Linked DNA regions of Homo sapiens. The protein of the gene in region 1 interacts with the protein of each later gene in a biochemical or structural test. Each region holds a gene or a part of one and is shown in the gene's direction. Other genes may lie near its edges. The genes, in order: USP26, PRKN, BAG3 and CDKN2A.

Evidence for each region.
Region 2: the proteins of USP26 (region 1) and PRKN form a complex in vitro, tested with the Homo sapiens proteins (one study listed by BioGRID).
Region 3: the proteins of USP26 (region 1) and BAG3 form a complex in vitro, tested with the Homo sapiens proteins (one study listed by BioGRID).
Region 4: the proteins of USP26 (region 1) and CDKN2A form a complex in vitro, tested with the Homo sapiens proteins (one study listed by BioGRID).

The regions. Positions count from the first base shown.
Region 1 is NC_000023.11:133,094,310-133,098,315, reverse strand, and holds the start of USP26 (ubiquitin carboxyl-terminal hydrolase 26), read left to right. Parts: upstream 1-1,206; 5' UTR 1,207-1,286; intron 1,287-4,006. UniProt on the Homo sapiens protein: Deubiquitinase regulating several biological processes through the deubiquitination of components of these processes.
Region 2 is NC_000006.12:162,718,898-162,727,157, reverse strand, and holds part of PRKN (E3 ubiquitin-protein ligase parkin), read left to right. Parts: exon of another isoform or gene 1-26; intron 27-8,260. UniProt on the Homo sapiens protein: Functions within a multiprotein E3 ubiquitin ligase complex, catalyzing the covalent attachment of ubiquitin moieties onto substrate proteins. Substrates include SYT11 and VDAC1.
Region 3 is NC_000010.11:119,670,687-119,676,536, forward strand, and holds part of BAG3 (BAG family molecular chaperone regulator 3), read left to right. Parts: intron 1-1,568; coding exon 1,569-1,970; intron 1,971-5,777; coding exon 5,778-5,850. UniProt on the Homo sapiens protein: Co-chaperone and adapter protein that connects different classes of molecular chaperones including heat shock proteins 70 (HSP70s), e.g. HSPA1A/HSP70 or HSPA8/HSC70, and small heat shock proteins (sHSPs), e.g. HSPB8.
Region 4 is NC_000009.12:21,968,841-21,972,813, reverse strand, and holds part of CDKN2A (cyclin-dependent kinase inhibitor 2A), read left to right. Parts: intron 1-1,149; exon of another isoform or gene 1,150-1,485; intron 1,486-1,605; coding exon 1,606-1,912; intron 1,913-2,310; coding exon of another isoform or gene 2,311-2,408; exon of another isoform or gene 2,409-3,009; intron 3,010-3,020; coding exon of another isoform or gene 3,021-3,082; exon of another isoform or gene 3,083-3,233; intron 3,234-3,973. UniProt on the Homo sapiens protein: Acts as a negative regulator of the proliferation of normal cells by interacting strongly with CDK4 and CDK6. This inhibits their ability to interact with cyclins D and to phosphorylate the retinoblastoma protein.

The DNA.
Region 1 (4,006 bases):
GGCCTCAGACTCCTGGCCTCAGGTGATCCACCTGCTCGGCCTACCAAGGTGCTGGGATTACAGGCGTGAGTCACCACGCCCAGCCCTACCAAGTTTACTTTCAACTGTAGTCTAAATTTATAATTCTCTGACCAGTCAGGAGACAGGTATGGGCTAGGTTATTTTTTTGCACTGGATTTTGCAGAATTTCTGCAACCTAACAAATGCAAACATCCCAGTACAAATCTGGGTCCTTCTCGCCACATCCAGCCCGGTGCTAACTGATGCCAGTGCTGACAGCACTCCCTTGCACCCCAATTCTAATGTTTTCCCATATTCCCCACCTGATAGCAGCAAGAGAGGGCCTGGTAAGAGAGGGAAAGGATCAGTGAATGCATCATGGAGGCGGCTGTGTTTGAGCTGGGACCTAATTGGTGGACAGAGATGGGGGGAAAGGAAATTCTAGTAGGAGGCTGATTACTCTTAAATAGTGGTCTACGACACAGACATTGGTGCTAGAGGGTCATGGATTCAAACGCTAGTATGGCCATTTCCTAGTTCTACTCGTGATCCCCTTCCTCAGTCCTCTTATCACCCCACATCCATTCTCCCAGTCGTATAAACTCTCTCCTAACTGCTTATGCTCACTTAGTTTAATGCCCATTCTGTTTAACTCACCTGCAATGGCGGCACCATCCCCAATTTAATGCCCTTACTTCCTATGCACAATTGTTAGGTGTACAGCTATTTAGGCTCATTTTTCACTGTAGATCCCCGTCCTGGCATCACGCCCGTTCCTTTTTCCCAAACGTAAATGCTGAGGGGTGGGTTTCAATTCCCTGCTACGAATTGAGTCTCATCCCAATGGTAGAAATGGCTGGGAAGATCTTTCCCGTACAAGGCAATAATATGCAAAAAATGTAAAAGCGGTTGGCGCGTTATTTGAATTCATTGCGGGAACCACGCAGAAAGTCTCGTGGGAGTTACTTTGTGATAGTTTTTTCCTTCCATTCCCCACAGTTCCTGCCACTGCACGCGCAACACCTCCAAGCAATAATCCTTCCCACCAATAAGGAGCAAAGGCCCGGGGTGTGGACGGACTTTCCTGTTATAGAGAAGGTGGGAGTAGACAGTATCCTGGTCAATTGTTTCAGTCACAACCAATCAGGATCTTTGAGGGTGGAGCCATACACTGGCAATAAAAGAAGCCTGCCCCTGTGGCGGGGCCCATTTTGTTTTCGATCGTTAAGTGGGCACGTGGTGGAGCGTTGGTGTGTCAGGGGTGTCGACTTCTTCCACAAACTATTGTAAGATCAATTTGCTTTTCATTTGTAATAGTTATTGAGAGTTAGATATTTGTAGTGTGCTTTCTATATGTGGCTATATGAAATGTAGTAGTATACTTTTTCTTTTCTTTTCGTTTTTCTGTTTTTGTTTTTTTTGAGACGGAGTCTCATTCTGTCATCCAGGCTGTAGTGCAGTGGCATGATCTCGGCCCATTGCAACCTCCGCCTCCTGGGTTTAAGCGATTCTCCTGCCTCATCCTCCTGAGTAACTGGGATTACAGGCGCCTGCCACGACGCCTGGCTAGTTTTTGTATTTTTAGTAGAGACAGAGATTCACCATATTTCTCAGGCTGAGCTCCAACACCTGACCTCAGGTGGTCCACCCGCCTCAGTGTCCCACACTGCTGGGATTACAGGCGTGAGTCACCACGCCTGGCCTCTCTTTCTGTTACTTTGGACCTGGAAAGAATCAGCTTCCCATTGGGAGGGATTGTGCACGGTATTAGGACAGTTAATGGCCATTAGCTGCTGCGATGTTGTTTGTATTTCTTTCTTTTAAAAATGTAATATTTGTGGTTATCTTTTGGAGTCGGTTCTTTCATCCACTCACTTTCAAATAAAAGAAAAGTTTTCTGGTGTTTAAAACTTGAAAATGTTGTCTGGTCAGTGCAGGAATTGTTCATTGACAACTTCAGATAGCCTCCTGTTGGTCATTCGCTATTTTGCATTTTTATACAGTATAGTTGTGAATTTAATTGTATTCCACGAAGAGTGCTTCTCATATTTTTCATTCATTTGCCTTTAAAAGTTTGGTCTTAATTGCAGTTGATGTTTTACAAACAATATGGATGCTCTGCCTCTCTAGCTGTGGTGGCTAGTGTTTGTAATCCCAGTGCTTTGGGAGGTGGGAAGGAGGCTTGAGTCCAGGAGTTAGAGACCAGCCTGAACAGCAGAGGGAGACCTCATTTCTACAAAAAAAAAAAAAAAAAAAAAAAAAAAAAAATTAGGCCGGGCGCCGTGGCTCATGCCTGTAATCCCAGCACTTTGGGAGGCTGAAGTGAGTGGATCTCCTGAGGTCAGGAGTTCGAGACTAGCCTGGTCAACACGGTGAAACCCCGTCTCTACTAAAAATATGAAAATCAGCCAGGCGTGGTGATATGTGCCTGTAATCCCATCTACTGGGGAGGCTGAGGCAAGAGAATCACTTGAAACCAGGAGGCGAAGGTTGCAGTGAGCCGAAATTGTGCCACTGCACTCTAGCCTGGGCGACACAGTGAGACTACATCTCAAAATAAATAAATAGCCAGATGTAGTCTCCCCGAGTAGTCTTGGCCACGTATGAGGACCTCTTTAGCCCAGGAGGACGAGGCTGAAGTGAGCTGCGTCTGTGCCACTGTACTGCAGCCTAGGCGACAGAGCGAGACCCTGTCTCTTAAAAAAATATTGTTGGCATTGGAAACTTCATAGGTTTCTTATGAAAGGTTTTGTACAAGTTTCAGTTTGCAGTAGAGGAAATTAACTGTCGATTGAGTGCATTTTATAACAGAACAGCCTATTTGGTATAATTTTATTTGTCCAAATTCTGGTCTTGTTTCCTCTTCATTAATTTCCTTATAAAATAAAAGTTTTGGAGTAATCTTGATTTACAAATGCACAATTTAATCATCTGGCTGTGTCCTTAATGTTTTGCACCAGTGACTGCACTTAAGTGTCTTATCATCGGCTGCCATTTAATGGAATTTGGAATTTTATTTTACAGAGGAATTCTGTGTTAGGTAGCATTTTATTCCATTAAATGTGGGTCCTAGTCCTTTTCATAAATTTTGTGTGAAGAAAGTTTTGTATTATCTTCAATTTACAAATAACGAAAAGAATTTTCTAATTGAAAGAATGTTTTGTGGCATTTTCTTTCTTTTCTTTTCTTTTCTTTCTTTCTTTCTTTTTTTTTTTTTTTTTTGACAAGAGTCTTGTTCTGTCGCCCAGGCTGGAGCGCAGTGGCACGATCCCAGCTCACTGCAACGTCTGCCTCCCAGGTTCAAGTGATTCTGTTGCCTCAGCCTCCCAAGTAGCTGGGATTACAGGTGCCCGCCCCTATGCCCAGCTAATTTTTCTATTTTTAGTAGAGACGGGGTTTCACCAAGTTGGCCAGACTGGTCTTGAACTCCTTACCTCAGGTGATCCACCCTCCTCGGCTTTCCAAAGTGCTGGGATTACAGGCGTGAGCCACTGTGCCCAGCCCGTTTGTGGTATTTTTAATGTAAAAATGCACACATTGCTAATTTGCCTGAGAGCTTGTTTTAGGACACTAAATTGTCACAAGTGCCAATCACCAGCCACTGCAGAAAGTTTTTTGGGATATCATATCCTGAAACAATTGTGTGTTGAGGTTCAATGTATTCAATTCTGCTCGAGTTTTTTGCATACGTTTCCTTTAAAAGACGGAGGTATTTCAGTGTGTAAATGAGGAAATTAACTGTAACGTCAAATGTTTACTTTCTGGCAGTGAACAGCCGTTGGAAGTCATGTTGCCTCATCTGAATTTTATTGTACAGTATAGTTGTGTGTTTAATATAATGGTATTTATACATTTTGGCATAGGTCCTCTTTCCAAGGTGTTCCTTCCCAGAAAAAAAAAAAAAAGGTTTCTATTTAAGAATAAGGAGGACAGAAGTTGTCTAGGGCCAGGTTAGGAGAGAAAATGGAAGTAGATCCTTCTAGATCCTTCTGGATCTTCTGCTCGC
Region 2 (8,260 bases), on another chromosome or scaffold:
CCACAGAAACTCCTCCAGATAGATCTAAACTTGCTCCCTCGGATGTTTCCTTTTAAACTTCTCATTGGAGGGCTGAGATGAAAGAAACATTAAGAGTAAATAGTAGCCAAGATTAAATCTATTGCCTTTTGCAAAATAACCTTTCTTTTTTTTTTTTGTAAAAGAACGACCGAGGTGCAAGTTTGTGAACGAAACTTAGTGGCATCAGAGTTGTTCATGAACACTTGATGTGTAAGATGAGCAAAGGTCCTCTCTTCCAGGGTTGTTGAGCCAAAAGTTACTTTAGGGGCTATCCCTGAAAATTAATGGAAATGCACCATATGTTTGAAAAACAGTGCTAGATGGGGTTTCATTATTGTGGAGGTTTCTCCAGGTTATGTATGGAGGGTTTAGTGAGCTTGTTTATTCCTGAGGAGGGTCCTTTACAAAACACTTTTGATTGCAGTAAGTACGTTCGAAGTCAGATGTGGTCTGTCCAGAAGAAAGATGAGAGGTGGATTTATAAAGTATATGATCTTTATGCACTGAAAACACTTCTTACATCTGTTTATTTGTGAAGTTATTGTTAAAATGTAAACATTCTCCCCATCAGTGGGAGAATCAAGCCAGCTAACTGGCATGGTCTTTGTGGTAAAACAAGAATGTTGTCCAACTTTTCTTCCCTTTCTAGCATGGTCTGACTTTTGGTGAATGACTTGAAAGTTAATCAAATTACGAAAAAAATATTTTTTATGAGTCTTCTTGAGCTCTTTTTAGGTGACATTTACGTAAGATTCACTTGCAAGCACAAGTTTGAACTGAATCAGAAAACCAAGTAGAAGAGATTTTCCAATATCTGTGCTGTCAGTCTACAGGAAGAAAATAGCCTATACCTTATTTTGAAGACAGTTAAATACATTTTATTTTAATTTAACTTAATCTAGTGCACAGATAATTTTAAGAGAAACAAATTTATTGTAAAGCTATATAAAGACAAGCACTTAAGATCTAAAGAACATTACTCAGTTATAAGTTATGACCTAATAAGTGATTATATAAATAACTTTATTAGGATGAAATGTGTTTGGACAGTTCTGTTTAGTTTTATCTGGAATTCTTCCAATAAGGAAGAAATATCTTTGGAGTTGATGATTAAACAGTTATCAATTACTGGTAATGACATGGAGAATATAAGGTTGGTTTTTAAAAGTGTTATTTCTCTCACTCCAGCCATGGTTTTACATAGTGCAAATAAGTGTGCAGTACAACATAAATGATTAAATCCATGCCTGCTTTCCCTAGGAAATGTGCCTTACATATAAGATCATGGACAATGTGCAATAAAATATTCAACTAGTTGCATTGCCTAATTCTGAAATTAGACACACGTCTTTTTTTTTTTTTTTTCCTCTTTTTGAGACAGGTTCTGTCTCTGTCACCCAGGCCGGAGTGCAGTGGCACCATCACAGCTCACTGCAGCCTCCAACTCCTGGGCTCAAGTGATCCTCCCATCTCAGCCTCCTGAGTAGCTGTGACTACAGGTGTGTGCCACCATGCCTGCCAATTTTTTGTTATAGTTTTTGTAGAGATGGAGTTTCATAATGTTGCCCAGGCTGGTCTCAAACTCCTGGGCTCAAGCAATCCTCCCGCATTCGCCTCTGAAAGTGCTGGGATTACAGGCATGAACCACCACGCCCAGCCTCATTAGCCACATTTCAGTAAACATCTGAATGGTCAGTTTGGGATTTGGGTGTCGTGAACAGTGCTAAAGGTAGGTGAAAGTGAAAACCATTAAAAGGAAGCCTTGGAGTGATGGGTTTTGTGTTTTTGTGACAAAAATTCAGAGCCAGGAAAGACATTATAGACTTTATCCAGTGATCACTAAAATGTAAATAGTATGTATCTGGGATTTTCTGTTAAAGGTAAGAGTGCTTCTCAAAGCTTGCTCCTTTCAGGCCTATGCTTTCTCTAACTATTACACTCACCTTGTTGCGGGATTCGGGAGTATGAGGGAGACCTCAGGTTGAAGCAGGAGAATCTTTATTGAGTGTACTCAGGCCCAGCTGACTCACATCCAAAAGACTGGGCCCAGAATAAAGACAGTACTTGACTTTTATACACACTTCACAAACGGAGGTGGGCTAGCTTGAAGCAAGCTTACAGTGGCGTGAAAGCAGGGATACAGAGGCAGGACAAAGACAGGATTGCAGATGACCATTGCCAAGCAACCCAGATGTTCGTTTTCTAGGTTTGCCTGGGCACAGGCTTATCCTATAACCTTCTCTGTGGTGCCCAGGCAGCTGTAGTTCAGGCCTACTCAGGCTTTTTATGACCTTCGTTGTACTACTTAGATAAAACAGAATACTTGAAATCACTAGTTACAGAGAACAAGAGTCTATAAACTCATTCTGTAAAACAAAGGAAAATTTGTTTTTCTTCTCCCTGTGTTGAGGGAGTGCTGAGAGAGTCTCCAGAGCATATTAGATAATATTATCAAGACTTTTCCTGGGTCTAGGCTGTGCCTGTTGCTGCTTCTGGAACAAGTTAGCCTAAAACAGGAAAACTTATTTCTCTTTCTTTTTAATTTTATTGTTCTTTAATTTCCCGCCTCAACCTTACTGCGAATAATATTCTGCCACTTTATTTAAATCCTGGCTTAGTTTAAGGAGAAACGTAAAGATGGGTTTCCTGGTAGAATAGGAGTAAACAGGACTGACTGTGACCTCACTGCTAATGACATGTACCTTCCTTTTACTTTCTCAAAACCGAAGATTCCCTTATTGGCATGAGGACTGTTTCAAAAGTACTTACATTTCCCACCTGCATTGTGATTGATGTGTTGAATGCCCTGACCCAGGCAGCTACAGAAACATAATTTAATTGAAGTCGGTTAAAAATTGTGCCTTTGTGGAAAGTGTGGAGAAGGACTTCAAGATGATATAAAGCAGAATAGAAAAGCTTAAAAGAATTCAATTTAGAAAAATGTAATTTTTGGTACCTCTATTAAAAATATATTTTGACTTTTTTAAAAATGAGCAATTCTTTGTGTTTAAAATGGAATGTTAGTGGGGATATTTGTGGTATGTTCTAAATGTTCTGTAGAACTGGATTTAGGTATTTGAGTAACAGCAGATATTAGAGTGCATGGTTATATATACAACAATGTTGTCAGTATTGAAATACACATTCAGTGTCTTAGACTTTTAAGAAGATTTTTGATTGACAAAAACCATTCATTGGAACATAGTCTCTTCTATACCTTGTTTCACTTAGCATCTCTTTGAGAATTTACATATCTGCATGTCCAGATCCACTCCACAGCGATTCCTGCCTAGTCTTTTATAGGATACACTAATTATGAAAATATTTACCAATAAATAAGCACTCATTAGGTTTACAGACAACTGTTGTCAGAAGTGTTTGTGGCCATATCTTTTTACTTGCACATGTAAGCATAGATGTAAAATAAAAATCGTATGACAATTTGAGTTAAAGAGTTTGTAGATTTTACATTTTCCTAGGTATTTCAAAATTTTTCCAAAATAAGTTGCCCAATTTTACAAGCCTATCTAAAGCCTCCACTAATACAACATGGTAGTAAAGAGCTGCCCTGCCCCTCTGGGCTGAAAATTGCCAAAAGACGTCCTTCCTGAGACTGACTCAGCTTTCACTAGCAGAACGCCTCCTGGATCTCCGGTCCCCCACCTCTCTCTCACCCTAGGGGTAGTGCCTTTCAGTGTACAAGCTGCACAACTGTCCTTGGTGGCCCTGCCCTCCCTTTCAGTGTGTATAAGAGTGCCCATTTCCTCCCATGTGCCATCGAAGATTTTTTATTTTTGCCGTCTTGACAGATGAAAAACAGTATCTTTTAACTTTTCAAATTAATTTAGAAGAAAACTTCTCATTCTCATCTTATAGTGCGTTAGTTTTGCAAAAGCAGATCCAGTGATTCCAGCACCTGCTATGTACCCTTAACTGCTCTAGGTGCCAGGGAAACGAGGGAACACAACAGAAAAAGTCCCTTGCCATCAGGAATGTATATTCCGACTTCACCATTTGGCTACACATCTGCATATTTGTTTTCAAGCTTGTGTGCAGTGAATTTTAAAGTCTCAATTTATATTTCTAGTTGAATATACTGTGTACTGCTCTTTGCCCTGCCATTTTGATAAGTTGATGAAAACCAGCTCTATGCCTAAGTACCCCAAAGCTTCTGTTTATAATGAGGTAAAATTGTGTCAAAAATAGGCTCTACTAAAGTTTTGCATAGAAGATTTTATGTAATTATATAATAGTTCTTCCTTGGGTCCAAAGGCTCTAAAATGACCCTTTGCCCTTTACAATTTTGGCCCTATTTCTGAGGATGTTTTTGAAGTCTGCATTTTTTGAAACCTCATAGTTTCATTGCCTGAAAATGATACAATGAAAGTACTTTGTATTAAGATATGTAAATCCATTCCTACCTCCAAAGTTTCTTTGAAAAATGCAAAAAAAAGAGTTCTTACTTCGAAATGCTTCATATTCATGAAAGCAGTTTTAATGCAAAATACTTTATTCTGTTAGCTATTAGTTCTTTGATCAATGAAAATTGTTTCTTACCTGCTGTTTCTGCAGCCTTTAATTGTAGCCCAGTGCTTATTCAATGTTTCTGTTTTAATTTGCATTTAATGAGCTCATTTTAAATGTTTCTTCGTAGTAATCTGAATGGTTTCTCTCCCTCAATTTTGTAATATTAAAGAGACTCATGTGACAGTCGGCTGATTTATGTTGCAGCTCACCTCCCTGGCTTATTTACTTCATCCTGTAGCATAGAATCTTGGTTAAAAGGAATTACAGTAATAGGATTCTTTTCCCCCAGTAATTTCCTAATTACCTAGGACTCTTAACAGATTAACTCAAATGTCTGTTTTTCACCAAATAGAAACCTTTTTTCCTTGAATGAATAGGTATTTATGATTATTATTTCAGTGTCATTTCTTTATACCATATGTATTAGATGGTGCTGGGTAGGGATGGGTACACATAGGTTGTATTTGTCTATATATTGCCTGTGGGGAAGGTACATAGAAATGACCATTTCTTCCCAATAAGTTTGTGGCCTAGTTGGGCTGATTAGGCTTATATTGGTGGTATAGATTGCACCTTCACCACCACAGAAGAAGAGTAATTAGAAAGATGTATGTACATATCAGCACACACATACATGCCTGCAACACGTGATTTTTCATGTTTCTTTTGTTCATTTGATTCTCGTTGATCTGAATGCCCTTTCTTTCTGTTGAACATCTCAAAACTACTGTTCATCACTCAAGATCCAGTTCCAATGGCACCAACTTTATGTGAAATTTTCCATGTCACCTCTTACCCTCTTTTTAGTGTGAGGCAATTAGCACCTCCTTTAGAGTCAGCCAACATTTTAGTAACTACCCTTCATCAGGTCCTTGTTCATAGTCTAGAAGGGGTACAGAAAAGTAAAGATTTACAAACCTGAAAGGTGGGTATCATAATATAGGTTTATACAAGGAAGTACTGGAAAACTCAGCCTATAGAGCTTGGAAGATCCAGCTGTTTCCCAGTGGAGCCATTCCAGTTTTCCTGCAGGACAAGTAGGAGTTAACTAGGTGAAGGCGGCCTTCTAGACAGGCATGGAGGGGAGAGAAGAGAATAGAATGAAAGGTATCTGGTGAGGCTGCAGGCACACCAGATAAGCTTTGTCAAGGAGGTAGGTTTAAAGTTGGCGATAGGGAGGAGTCACTGAACCATTATCTACAAAAGAGCATTATGAACAGGTTGTATTTTAGAAAGATGTCTGTGGCAGTACTAGAAAGTTATGAAATAGAACGTTGTAGAAAATAGTTACACTAGTGCCAGCAAGTCCAGATAAAGTGTTAATAGAGGACTTCTCATGACCTTCATTGTACTTCTTAGATAAAACAGAATACTTGAAATCACTAGTTACGGAGAACAAGCGTTTATAAACTCACTCCATAAAACAAAGGAAAGAAGTCCAGATAATGTTTAATAGAGGACAGTCTTCGACTGAGAATGGCAGGGTAATTGTGCAGTAGGAGATGGCTTTTCTCAGGGTGTTGACATTGATTTGATATGTCATTACATCATCTCTGATTAAAGGCCATATTTCTTTTTAAAAAGTTCTTATTTTTGTAGAATAGATTAATGTCTCTTATTGACAGGTGTTTTATTTCATGTTACTAAAGCTTTATTTGTATTCCAAAAATAGTTTGTATCTCCTTCTTTGATATGTGGAACATGATGCTTAGGGTTCTATTTATAGTTTCTTCTCTGTGTGGAGAGAACAATGTCATCAGAGCTGTGGATATCGTGTCACCCAGAATAGTGCAGAATAGTTTCTTCCTCTTAGATATCTGCATGACTCATATACCTAGGCACATATTAAGACCATCTATGGGCCGGGCGCGGTGGCTCACGCCTGTAATCCCAGCACCTTGGGAGGCCGAGGCGGGTGGATCATGAGGTCAGGAGATCGAGACCATCCTGGCTAACAAGGTGAAACCCCGTCTCTACTAAAAATACAAAAAATTAGCCGGGCGCGGTGGCGGGCGCCTGTAGTCCCAGCTACTCGGGAGGCTGAGGCAGGAGAATGGCGTGAACCCGGGAAGCGGAGCTTGCAGTGAGCCGAGATTGCGCCACTGCAGTCCGCAGTCCGGCCTGGGCGACAGAGCGAGACTCCGTCTCAAAAAAAAAAAAAAAAAAAAAAAGACCATCTATGGACAGATGTGTGTATTTTTAAGAGTATTGATGGCTTCTTGATGATTCTCTCCAATTTACTTTTACTGTAAGACCTGAACAGAGGCCCCCATAAAGTTTCACATGAGAGCCCTTAACTTTGGAGGAGAGAATGTTCAATAGTTAGCAGCCTCACCCATTTTGCACATCTCTACTCCTACCCTCATCAAATGAGGGGGAAAATTGGTGATTAGGGAGTTAATATTGGTGTCCTGATTGAGACTTTTTATTATTTATTTACATAATTGTTGAATACGCCAGTTACTCCTATTGTGAGATATTTTTGGAGTTTCAGTGCATAAATAAGATCTTGTGATGAAGCCCTCTGTAACTGCGTAGTCATTTTTAAAGCTTATTGTACCCGCAGAGTAGATCCATTTTCCAGATCATGAAATGATAGGAAGTAGACACCTGAAACTTGCTCGTATTAATAAAATGGAGAAATAGGAAGGAACATTTGTAATATCTGTGTTTCTGAGGTCAACCTTTAGTTTTTTTTTTTTTTTTTTTTTTTTTGACATCTACCTGCACTCCCTCTTTTCTGTCCCCTCATTTTTTTCTTACCCACATTCCTTGATTTTCTCAGAAGCTGGAATTTAATATTTCATTCTTCAGCTCAAAGGAGCAGCTGTTGTCTGAACAACAGGTGAATTTCTTCCTTACTTGTTGCCACAGGGCTTGACTGTGGGTTGTAATGTTTCTGAGGGTTATCACAGGAGTGGCCTGACCGGAACAGACCAGGCTTCACCACAGCTCCTACTGGAGACATTCCCTAGATTGGGAATTGTCTGCAATGGAAATCTTTGTAGTCTCTGGCTCTGCATTTTCCTTCCAGGCAAATCCAGTCCTGATTACAATTTTTTTTTTCCATTGAAACAAAATTGAGGAATGATGAACTCTGGGCAGCTAGAGGATGGGGGCAAGTTAGGTTTGCTCCTTGGAGAATTAGACAGATTTAAGAATAATATTCCCTGTGCCCTGGGTCTTCTCTCCACCCTTGAAATTCGACCTCCTTTCTCCTGAAAGTCCTTTATAGCTCTCTGGTGAGTTCCCAGAGTGTGAGAGGTACAGATTTAAGCACAAGTGAGGTCATGTTCTCTGAGGTGCTGCTTCTCTGGGCTCCTGACCACAGACAAATGTAGACTGCATGATCCAGTTGATATTCACCAAATTTGTATAATTACATGTGACAATATATAAAGACGTTTTTACATGAATATGTCTGAATTCATAGGATCAGATGGGAAGTATATGTGTTTTATTGGGCAGTCAATTTAGACATAATCATATGATACAGAGAGTGATATTTCGTAGAGATCTGTTGTGGGCTTTCCACTCTTGTTCATTTAGGAATCTGTGAGATGCTCAACCTATGATTGGAATTGGAATTTCTTCCTTTTGTCCCTCTCTAGAGTTTTCTCCATTATTCATTGTCCCTTTCTCGTGTGTGTGTGTGTGTATGTGTGTGTGGCATCTGCCGTGTCTCACTACATGCAGAGCTTCTGACATAGGT
Region 3 (5,850 bases), on another chromosome or scaffold:
ACAGTTTCAAAAGAAATAAGGAGTCAGGAAGGCAGCTGCTTTAAGACAGCATTTTAATCCTGAAGCCAAACATCTCAGGGATATGTCAATGGATTCTGTGCATTAATAGCTAAAAAATAGTTCTTAATCTGGTTCTTAGCTGAGATTTGAGGCATTCCTAGTAGGATTCCTAAGCAGTAAGTCCTCTCATTTTCCTGTCTGCACATCATCCTGTGGTGTGTGCCAGCGTTGTTCCTGGGCACAAACTCCCGTGTCCTATCTGCACCCTGAGTCATGCTTGCCTCTCAGCTCCGTCTGAATCTGTTCAGCTTCACACCTGCTTGAGAGTGAAAGTTACAGTTAATGTGGGATACCTTTTTTCTTTTCTTAGAGAGGTAGTACCTGGCTGAGGCAGGTGGATCACTTGAGGCCAGGAATTCAAGACCAGCCTGGCTAACACGGTGAAACCCCGTCTCTACAAAAAATACAAAAATTAGCCGGGCATGGTGGCACATTCCTGTAATCCCAGCTACTCAGGAGGCTGAGGCAGGAGAATTGCTTAAACCCAGGAGGCAGAGGTTGCAGTGAGCCGAGATCGCACCACTGCACTCCAGCCTAGGTGATAGAGCGAGACTGTCTCAAAAATAAAAAAATAAGTAATGCCTATATTTATAATGGTTTTGCTGCAAGAAATCAAAGTGACACATAAATGCGAGACATCTTCACAAATTTAGGCTAACAAAGCACTTAGAAGAGGAAATGCTCTCAATTTCGAGGTGAATAGAAGGTGGCCCAGCAGGGAAAGGTGCTTGACCTGCCTTGGGCCACACGGGATGCTGGCAGCTCCCAGTTGCTCAGCCGAGTTCTCTGTAGATTGGCAGAGAAAGGGTAGTGGGGACAACACATCCCTTGTATGAGCGCTTCCTGTGTGCTGGCCTGGGGCTGAGGCACATGCCCAGGTGACTGACCTCATCTTCAGAGCAGCCCAGTGAGGGAGGGGCACTCTTCCTATATTTCAAATGAAGCTTAGAAAATGATTGAATTACTAGGAATTTGAACATAGGCCCCTTGATTCCAAAGCCTTCAGTCTTTGTTGTGTGTGTGTGTGTTTTGTTTTGTTTTGTTTTGTTTTGCTTTGTTTGAGGTGGAGTCTCTCTCTGTTGCCCAGACTGGAGTGCAGTGGTGTGATCTCAAATCACTGCAACCTCTGCCTCCTAGGTTCAAGCAATTCCCCTGCCTCAGCCTCCTGAGTAGCTGGCACTACAGGCATGCGCCGCCACACCCAGCTAATTTTTGTATTTTTGGTAGAGATGGGGTTTCACCATGTTGGCCAGGCTGCTCTTGAACTCCTGACCTCAGGTGGTCCACTCACCTAGGCCTCCCAAAGTGCTGGGATTACAGGTGTGAGCCACCGCGCCCAGCCCCAGAGCTCTCAGTCTTAACCGCACATTTTGAAAATTGAAAATTACAGATAGGAGGTCTTACAATATGGATTGCCCTGAGGAGGTGCACAGCAGAAGGCGTGGTCAGGATGCCAAGCCAGGGGAGTCATTTGTGGGGTCATGCCCTCTACCCTGTGTCTCTTGCAGCGGTCCCAGTCTCCAGCTGCCTCTGACTGCTCATCCTCATCCTCCTCGGCCAGCCTGCCTTCCTCCGGCAGGAGCAGCCTGGGCAGTCACCAGCTCCCGCGGGGGTACATCTCCATTCCGGTGATACACGAGCAGAACGTTACCCGGCCAGCAGCCCAGCCCTCCTTCCACCAAGCCCAGAAGACGCACTACCCAGCGCAGCAGGGGGAGTACCAGACCCACCAGCCTGTGTACCACAAGATCCAGGGGGATGACTGGGAGCCCCGGCCCCTGCGGGCGGCATCCCCGTTCAGGTCATCTGTCCAGGGTGCATCGAGCCGGGAGGGCTCACCAGCCAGGAGCAGCACGCCACTCCACTCCCCCTCGCCCATCCGTGTGCACACCGTGGTCGACAGGCCTCAGGTACGGGAAGTTAGTCGTCAGCAGACTGGTTATGGTGGTATGTCTCCAGGGGTGCAGGAGCTCTGTGGGTGCCCTGGGTTCCCCCTTCATCCCTGCCTATTTAACATGCGTGTACCTACAGGCAAGTGAGATTCGAGAAATTGCTAGGTATTAACAGAAATGCAGGACAGTTGCTCAGGCTGTGAACCCTCCGCACTCTGCAGCTTTTGCTGGGCTGATCATTGTGCATTGCGGCTGACTTAGAGCAGACGAAACAGCTTGGCAGAACTTACATACCTGGGACCAGCTTCCTTAGTGTCCACCACACCCTTTCAGGGCTCTTCACACCCCCATCCACACCGCAGCCACAGCCTCACCTTGGGTGTAGGCAGTGTGTCACCTTCCACTCAGTTACCCACTCCACTCTGCAGGCCCATTCTGCTCATTCCCACCCCTGTGCCTTTGCCCATGCTGAACCCGCTCCCTGAAATGCCCGCACAGTATAGGTTCTCCCTGTCCTCTGAGGGACGAGCCAGTCTTGTCTCCTCCATGAAGCCTACTCATCCTTCTCATCTCATGATGCCTCATATGAGTCCCTTAATGAGAACTCCCAACTTGTATGAGTTCAACATGTCATTATTCGGGGCATTTCAGAAGTGTTCATTTTATCTCTTCAGCTTAGGGCTGAGCCTGACCACAGGGCCCATGTCTTAACCCCCCTCCTCCCTTTGTAATCAGGTACCATGTGGTCTGGCTGAGGCATCAGCCAGCTATGGCGGATTGGAAGCCGTGCTGGCCTGGGGAAGGTTGTAGGCAGGGGTCTGGTTATCTTCCAGTGGAGACACAAGGTGCAGGTTCCTGGAAGAGGATGTCATTTAGTTTAAGCAGCTCACAGCTTAGCAGCAGGACAGTCAGCAGCCCTGGGCCCCCTGTGGCTGCAACTTGAGCAGCTGAATGCTACAGTTTTTAAAAAGGAAAGCCCCCCGTGAACAAATGTGGGATATTCTTTCATTACAAATGGTCACACTGGCCAGGGCCCTGGAATAGAGCACCCTCATCTTAAAATGTTGTTTTATTTGGAAATAATTTCAATCTCATAGAAGAGTTGTGTGAATCATACAGAGCCCCACATATACTTCATCCAGTTCACTGTTTGTCAATATGTCTGCATTCGCCTTGTCATTTCTTCTCTCGTATATTATTGATGTGTTTTAACTGTTTGAAAATTAATTGCAGACATCATGTCCCTTTTCCCCTGAATAGCAAATATTTTCCTAAGAGGAAGACATTCTCGTTCATAACCATGGTAGACTTACCAGATTCAGGAAATTTCACATTCTTACAACATTATTATCCAGTACATTTTTGAATCTTTTTTATAGCAGTTTGCCCCCACTTCCAGGATGTCTTCCAGGACTGAAACAAGGATCATGAGCACCGCATTTAGATGCAACTTCTCTTCAGTCTTCCCTCAGCCTTTCTTTGCTTTCACGGCCTTGACGGTTTTGAAGAACACAGGCTGTGGAACACCCTCTCTAAAGTGTTTCTAAAGTCACTTCTTACACAGCCATTGCTGTTAGAACCTAGGAGGGGTGCGTGGTTGGGTTGTGAGTGGTAAGGGCCAAAGTTGCGAATGTCTGCATTGGCGAAAGAGATTTGATGGAAAAGGAGGTTGCTGGAGTGTAGACAGCTACATCGATCCATACTTGGGTTCAGCAATCCTAGGAGGGTCCCATTTGTAGAGAGAGGGATATTTTCTCCACATCATTCCCATGTGTTTCTCATCATCAGTGAAATGATATTTCATCCTGTTCTTACCATTAACCGTGTTTGTGGTGACCTCCCTTTTAGAGCTGATTCAAAGTTCCCTTTTGGGAGGCTTTCCAGGATTTCACCAAACTGAACGTTATAGTGGAATTGAGTGTTTTAAGCTGGGAATAGTTTAGAAATAATATAGTCCAGTTATTTCCCAGTTGATGAAATTAGGGTGAGATTTTAAAAGAAGTGTTAGATATTCACTTACATGAATAAGAGCCAAGATAAGGCCAAGCGCAGTGGCTCACGCCTGTAATCCTGTAATCCTAGCACTTTGGGAGGCCGAGGCGGGGGTATCACTTAAGGTCAGGAGTTCAAGACTAGCCTGGCCAACATGGTGAAACCCCATCTCTACTAAAAATACAAAAAAAAAAGTTAACCAGGCATGTTGGTGGGCGCCTGTAATCCCAGCTACTCGGGAGGCTGGGGTGGGAGGATTGCTTGAACTTGGGAGGCAGAGGTTGCAGTGAACTGAGATCACACCACTGCACACTCCAGCCTGGGTGACAGAGCGAGGCTCCGTCTCAAAAACAAAAACAAAAACAAAAAGCGTCAAGATATTTTTGCTTTGAGCATAGCTCATTAAAAAATATATGGCTTACTAGGCGTGGTGGCTCACACCTATAATCCTAGCACTTTGGGAGGCCGAGGTGGGCAGATTGCTTGAGCTTAGAAATTCAAGACCAGCCTGGGCAGCATGGTGAAACCCTGTCTCTACAAAAAAATAGAAAAATTAGCCAGGCATGATGGTATGTGCCTGTAGTTGCAACTAATCATGAAGCTAAGGTGAGAGGATCACTTGAGGCCAGAAGGTTGAGGCTGCATTGAGCTGTGATAGCCCCGCTGCACTCCAGCCTGGGCAACAGAGTGAGACCCTGTCCCCCACAAAAATCTATATATCTATATGGCTGTAGTTTATAGTCACAGGAAAACCTGTGCAGCCAGAGGTTAGCACAGAGGCGCTGTGTCATTGCTGAATGTTAGGCTACAGCACAGCTATCCTGAAGCAAAATTGTTCTGGAGTTAACCATTTAGAGCATCTTGGCTAATCCTAAAAAAATACATTGGTCTGGGCAGAAACTACTAGGCTGTCACGGTTTTAAAAAAAGAAGATCGTATCTTTTCTAAAACAGGAGACAAGAAGATCACACCGTGAGCAGACTGTCTGCACAGTGTAAGGAAGAAGGACCAGAGGCAGCGACTCCAAGGCTGCAACACCTGAGAGCTGGAGTCACTCAGGACTCTGCTCTGAGTCAGCCTAGTTCAGCAGTCAGCATGAGTTTTTGCTATTTTTTTCCTTCTTTCCTTCCTTCCTTCCCTCCTTCCCTCCCCCTCCCTTCCCCCCTTCCCCTTCCCCCCTTCCCTGCTTCCTTCCCCCTTCCCCCTTCCCTCCTTCCTTCCTGCCCCCTTCCCCCTTGCCCCCTTCTCCCCTTCCTTCCTTCCTTCCTTCCCCCCTTCCTTCCTTCCTTCCTCCCTCCCTCCCTTCCTTCTTTGAGACAGGATCTCGCTCTGTCACTCAGGCTGGAGTGCAATGACATAATCGTGGCTCACTACAGCCTTGAATTCCTGGGCTCAAGCGATTCTTCCGCCTCAGCCTTCTGAGTAGCTGGGACTACGAGTGCAAGCTCCCACACCTGGCTAATTTTTAAAGATTTTTTGTAGGGTTGGGGTCTTACTATATTGCCCAGGTTAGCTATTTTCATTTTTGAAAATTTTATTGGGTTTCTTTTCATTGCCATTAAGAATACCATCTACAGAGAAATTCAGTGAGAGGTAATAGACAAATAGCCTGGGGTGATCAATGGAAGCCTGACTAATGATTGGGTTACATACATGATTAATACCATGTTTTTATTTTGTAACAGCCATTGATTGACTTTGAAAATCTTTTATACTATTAAACTTTTTTTAAAAAGCCATTTCTCAGTTTTCTTTCTAATCTGTACTAGCTACAAACAATTTCTGTGACTTTCAGTCAGTTATTAAAAATATATTTTTGTGTCCTTTTTTCAGCAGCCCATGACCCATCGAGAAACTGCACCTGTTTCCCAGCCTGAAAACAAACCAGAAAGTAAGCCAGGCCCAG
Region 4 (3,973 bases), on another chromosome or scaffold:
TGCAGCACTCAAATTTTAAGGTTGCTATGACTGCAGACAGTATTTTAAAATTCCTCTCTGGAAATGGCTTTGTTTCCAAGATGATTTAGGAACCAAAGAGGTGACCATCTCTTGTTTAATGAACTCTCAAATCATAAACCTGGGAAGTGTTTTAGTTTCCTACTGCTGCTGTTACAAATTATCACAAATGTGTTAGCTAAAACAAACACAAAATTATTATTTTACAGTTCTAGAGATCAGAAGTCAAAAATGGGTCCACAAGGTTTCATTCCTTTTGGAAACTCTAAGGGGCAATCTGTTTCCTTGTCTTTTCCAGCTTCTAGTGACCATCAAATTCCTTGGCTCATGGTCTCTGTATTTTCTCTGTGGCCTGTGCTTCCATTCTTGTATCTTCTCTCTGACTGTGACCCTCTAATAAAAACACTTGGGGTTATGTTGGGCCCACCCTGAAAATTCTGGATAATCTCCCTCAAGACCATTAATTAAATCACATCTGCAAAGCCTCTTTTGCCACATAAGTTAATGTATTAAAAGTTTTTGAGGATTAGGACATAGACATTGGGGGTGGGGGGGCATTATTCAGCCTACCACAGGAAGGAATTTTAGGGTTAATTAAACTAGCCTTCTTATTTTATACTTGAAGAAATTGAAGTTTTGGAATTGGAGAGCATTATGCTAAATGAAATAAGCCAAACACAGAAAGACAAATATCACATGTTCTCACTTATCTGTGAAATATAAAACAATTACATTCTTAGCAGTAAAGAGTAGAATGGTGGTTACTAGAGCTGGGGGGTGGGAGGAATGGGGAGATGGTAATCAAGATATAAAGCCTCAGTTAAGATGGGAGGAATAAGTTTGATTGTTTTTTTTGAGATGTGTTTCATAGCATGATGAATATAGCTAAATAGTAAATCCCAAATGCTCTCATTTGACAAAAATGTCAAATATTTGAGATGATGGATAGGTTACTTAGCTTGACTTAATAATTCCCCATTGTGTTCAAAGATCATAACTTCATATTGTACCACATAAATATATACAACTGTACTATCCCAATATATAATTTTAAAACTAATATAATGAAAAAGAAATTGAAGTTCAACATTCCCAGAAGCTAAGTGTAACTTAAAAGTTTTGTGAGAATTTGTTTTAACAAACAAACAAGTTTTCTCTTTTTAACAATTACCACATTCTGCGCTTGGATATACAGCAGTGAACAAAAAAAAAAAAAAAAATCTCCAGGCCTAACATAATTTCAGGAAGAAATTTCAGTAGTTGTATCTCAGGGGAAATACAGGAAGTTAGCCTGGAGTAAAAGTCAGTCTGTCCCTGCCCCTTTGCTATTTTGCCCGTGCCTCACAGTGCTCTCTGCCTGTGACGACAGCTCCGCAGAAGTTCGGAGGATATAATGGAATTCATTGTGTACTGAAGAATGGATAGAGAACTCAAGAAGGAAATTGGAAACTGGAAGCAAATGTAGGGGTAATTAGACACCTGGGGCTTGTGTGGGGGTCTGCTTGGCGGTGAGGGGGCTCTACACAAGCTTCCTTTCCGTCATGCCGGCCCCCACCCTGGCTCTGACCATTCTGTTCTCTCTGGCAGGTCATGATGATGGGCAGCGCCCGAGTGGCGGAGCTGCTGCTGCTCCACGGCGCGGAGCCCAACTGCGCCGACCCCGCCACTCTCACCCGACCCGTGCACGACGCTGCCCGGGAGGGCTTCCTGGACACGCTGGTGGTGCTGCACCGGGCCGGGGCGCGGCTGGACGTGCGCGATGCCTGGGGCCGTCTGCCCGTGGACCTGGCTGAGGAGCTGGGCCATCGCGATGTCGCACGGTACCTGCGCGCGGCTGCGGGGGGCACCAGAGGCAGTAACCATGCCCGCATAGATGCCGCGGAAGGTCCCTCAGGTGAGGACTGATGATCTGAGAATTTGTACCCTGAGAGCTTCCAAAGCTCAGAGCATTCATTTTCCAGCACAGAAAGTTCAGCCCGGGAGACCAGTCTCCGGTCTTGCCTCAGCTCACGCGCCAATCGGTGGGACGGCCTGAGTCTCCCTATCGCCCTGCCCCGCCAGGGCGGCAAATGGGAAATAATCCCGAAATGGACTTGCGCACGTGAAAGCCCATTTTGTACATTATACTTCCCAAAGCATACCACCACCCAAACACCTACCCTCTGCTAGTTCAAGGCCTAGACTGCGGAGCAATGAAGACTCAAGAGGCTAGAGGTCTAGTGCCCCCTCTTCCTCCAAACTAGGGCCAGTTGCATCCACTTACCAGGTCTGTTTCCTCATTTGCATACCAAGCTGGCTGGACCAACCTCAGGATTTCCAAACCCAATTGTGCGTGGCATCATCTGGAGATCTCTCGATCTCGGCTCTTCTGCACAACTCAACTAATCTGACCCTCCTCAGCTAATCTGACCCTCCGCTTTATGCGGTAGAGTTTTCCAGAGCTGCCCCAGGGGGTTCTGGGGACATCAGGACCAAGACTTCGCTGACCCTGGCAGTCTGTGCACCGGAGTTGGCTCCTTTCCCTCTTAAACTTGTGCAAGAGATCGCTGAGCGATGAAGGTAGAATTATGGTCCTCCTTGCCCTTGCCTTTCCTTTTTGTGATCTCAAAGCATCCTCCCTCCGCCCCCATTCCATGGCCCCAGTTCCCTACTCCCACAGCTGTCTGCTGAAACTGCCAACATTACTCAATTGTTTCTGGGGGGAGGAACATTTTTTTTTGAAACAAAATAGATATATGAAACAGTACACGGGAATTAACACGAATATTTAAGGTAAAACATGACCTTGAAGATTATGAAATCCATCTTATTTTGGCCCAGAACGGGGGCATTGGGCTCCTTGGGCCATAGGGGAGCTGGGGAGGACAGGGTGAAGAGTTAGCTCTAAGCCCTCTGCTTGGAGATGCTGTAAATACAGAACGCAAAATCACCTTCGAAGTTAAAGACGCGAAGTTCTTCTTTACTCGGCCCCTCCTCCCCTCCCCCCCGCCAATTCCCTCCAGTTACAGCTAGCATCCAGGTCCCGGGAGGTGAAGAAGGAGACTTCGGCTCCAGTTACAGCTAGCATCCGGGTCCCGATTTAGAAGGAGCTGCCAATTACAGCGCGGTTCCAGGGCTGAGCAAAAAGCCTGAGGAGCCAAGTGGGAGAGGGAGTAAAACTACTGAATTGGGCCACAAGCAAATGAATAAACTGAACGACTCTTAACCAAACCTAATATATTTAATCCAAACACACAAGTCTTTCATTTCTTCCCTCCTCCCTTCCTTCTCTTACTCCCCAACACCCCCTCTTCAAGCACAATTAATTATATGGTTAGATTCTACTGCGTGATCAGCCCTGTTCTAGGTGGTGGGCACGCCAAGGTGAATGAGACCAAACAAGAGTCTTGCCCTCATGGGGTTTACATTTGGAGACAGAGTCGATCTGTTGCCCAACCTGGAGTGCAGTGGCGCGATCACAGCTCACTGCAGCCTCAAACTCCCTGGCTCAAGGGGTTCTCCCACCTGAGCCTCCCGACTAGCTGGGACCACAGGTGCACGCCACGACGCCTGGGTTTGTTTGTTTGTTTAATAGAGACGAAGGTCTCACCATGTTATCTGGGCTCAAGCGATCATCCCCCCTCCTCCTCCTAAAGTACTGGGATTACAGTCCCAAGCTATCTTGCCCGACCTGGGAAACAGACGTTAAGGAAGATAACAATCTATTTTCAGAGAGCGAGTTTATAAAACCAATGCAATGGGTAAATATGAAGTGTGAATAGGAGGAGAAGCTAAAGAGTGGTCGGAGAATCTAATGCAAGCTACGGGAGAAAGAAACTCAAGTGCAAATGCTGCCTCAGGAATAAACGTAAAAAGAGACTTTCAAGTGCAAATGCTCCCTCAGGAATAAAATAATCTTGAGACTCTCAAGTGTAAATGCTGCCTCGGGAGAACCGAACGGCGAGCTGGAGCCCAT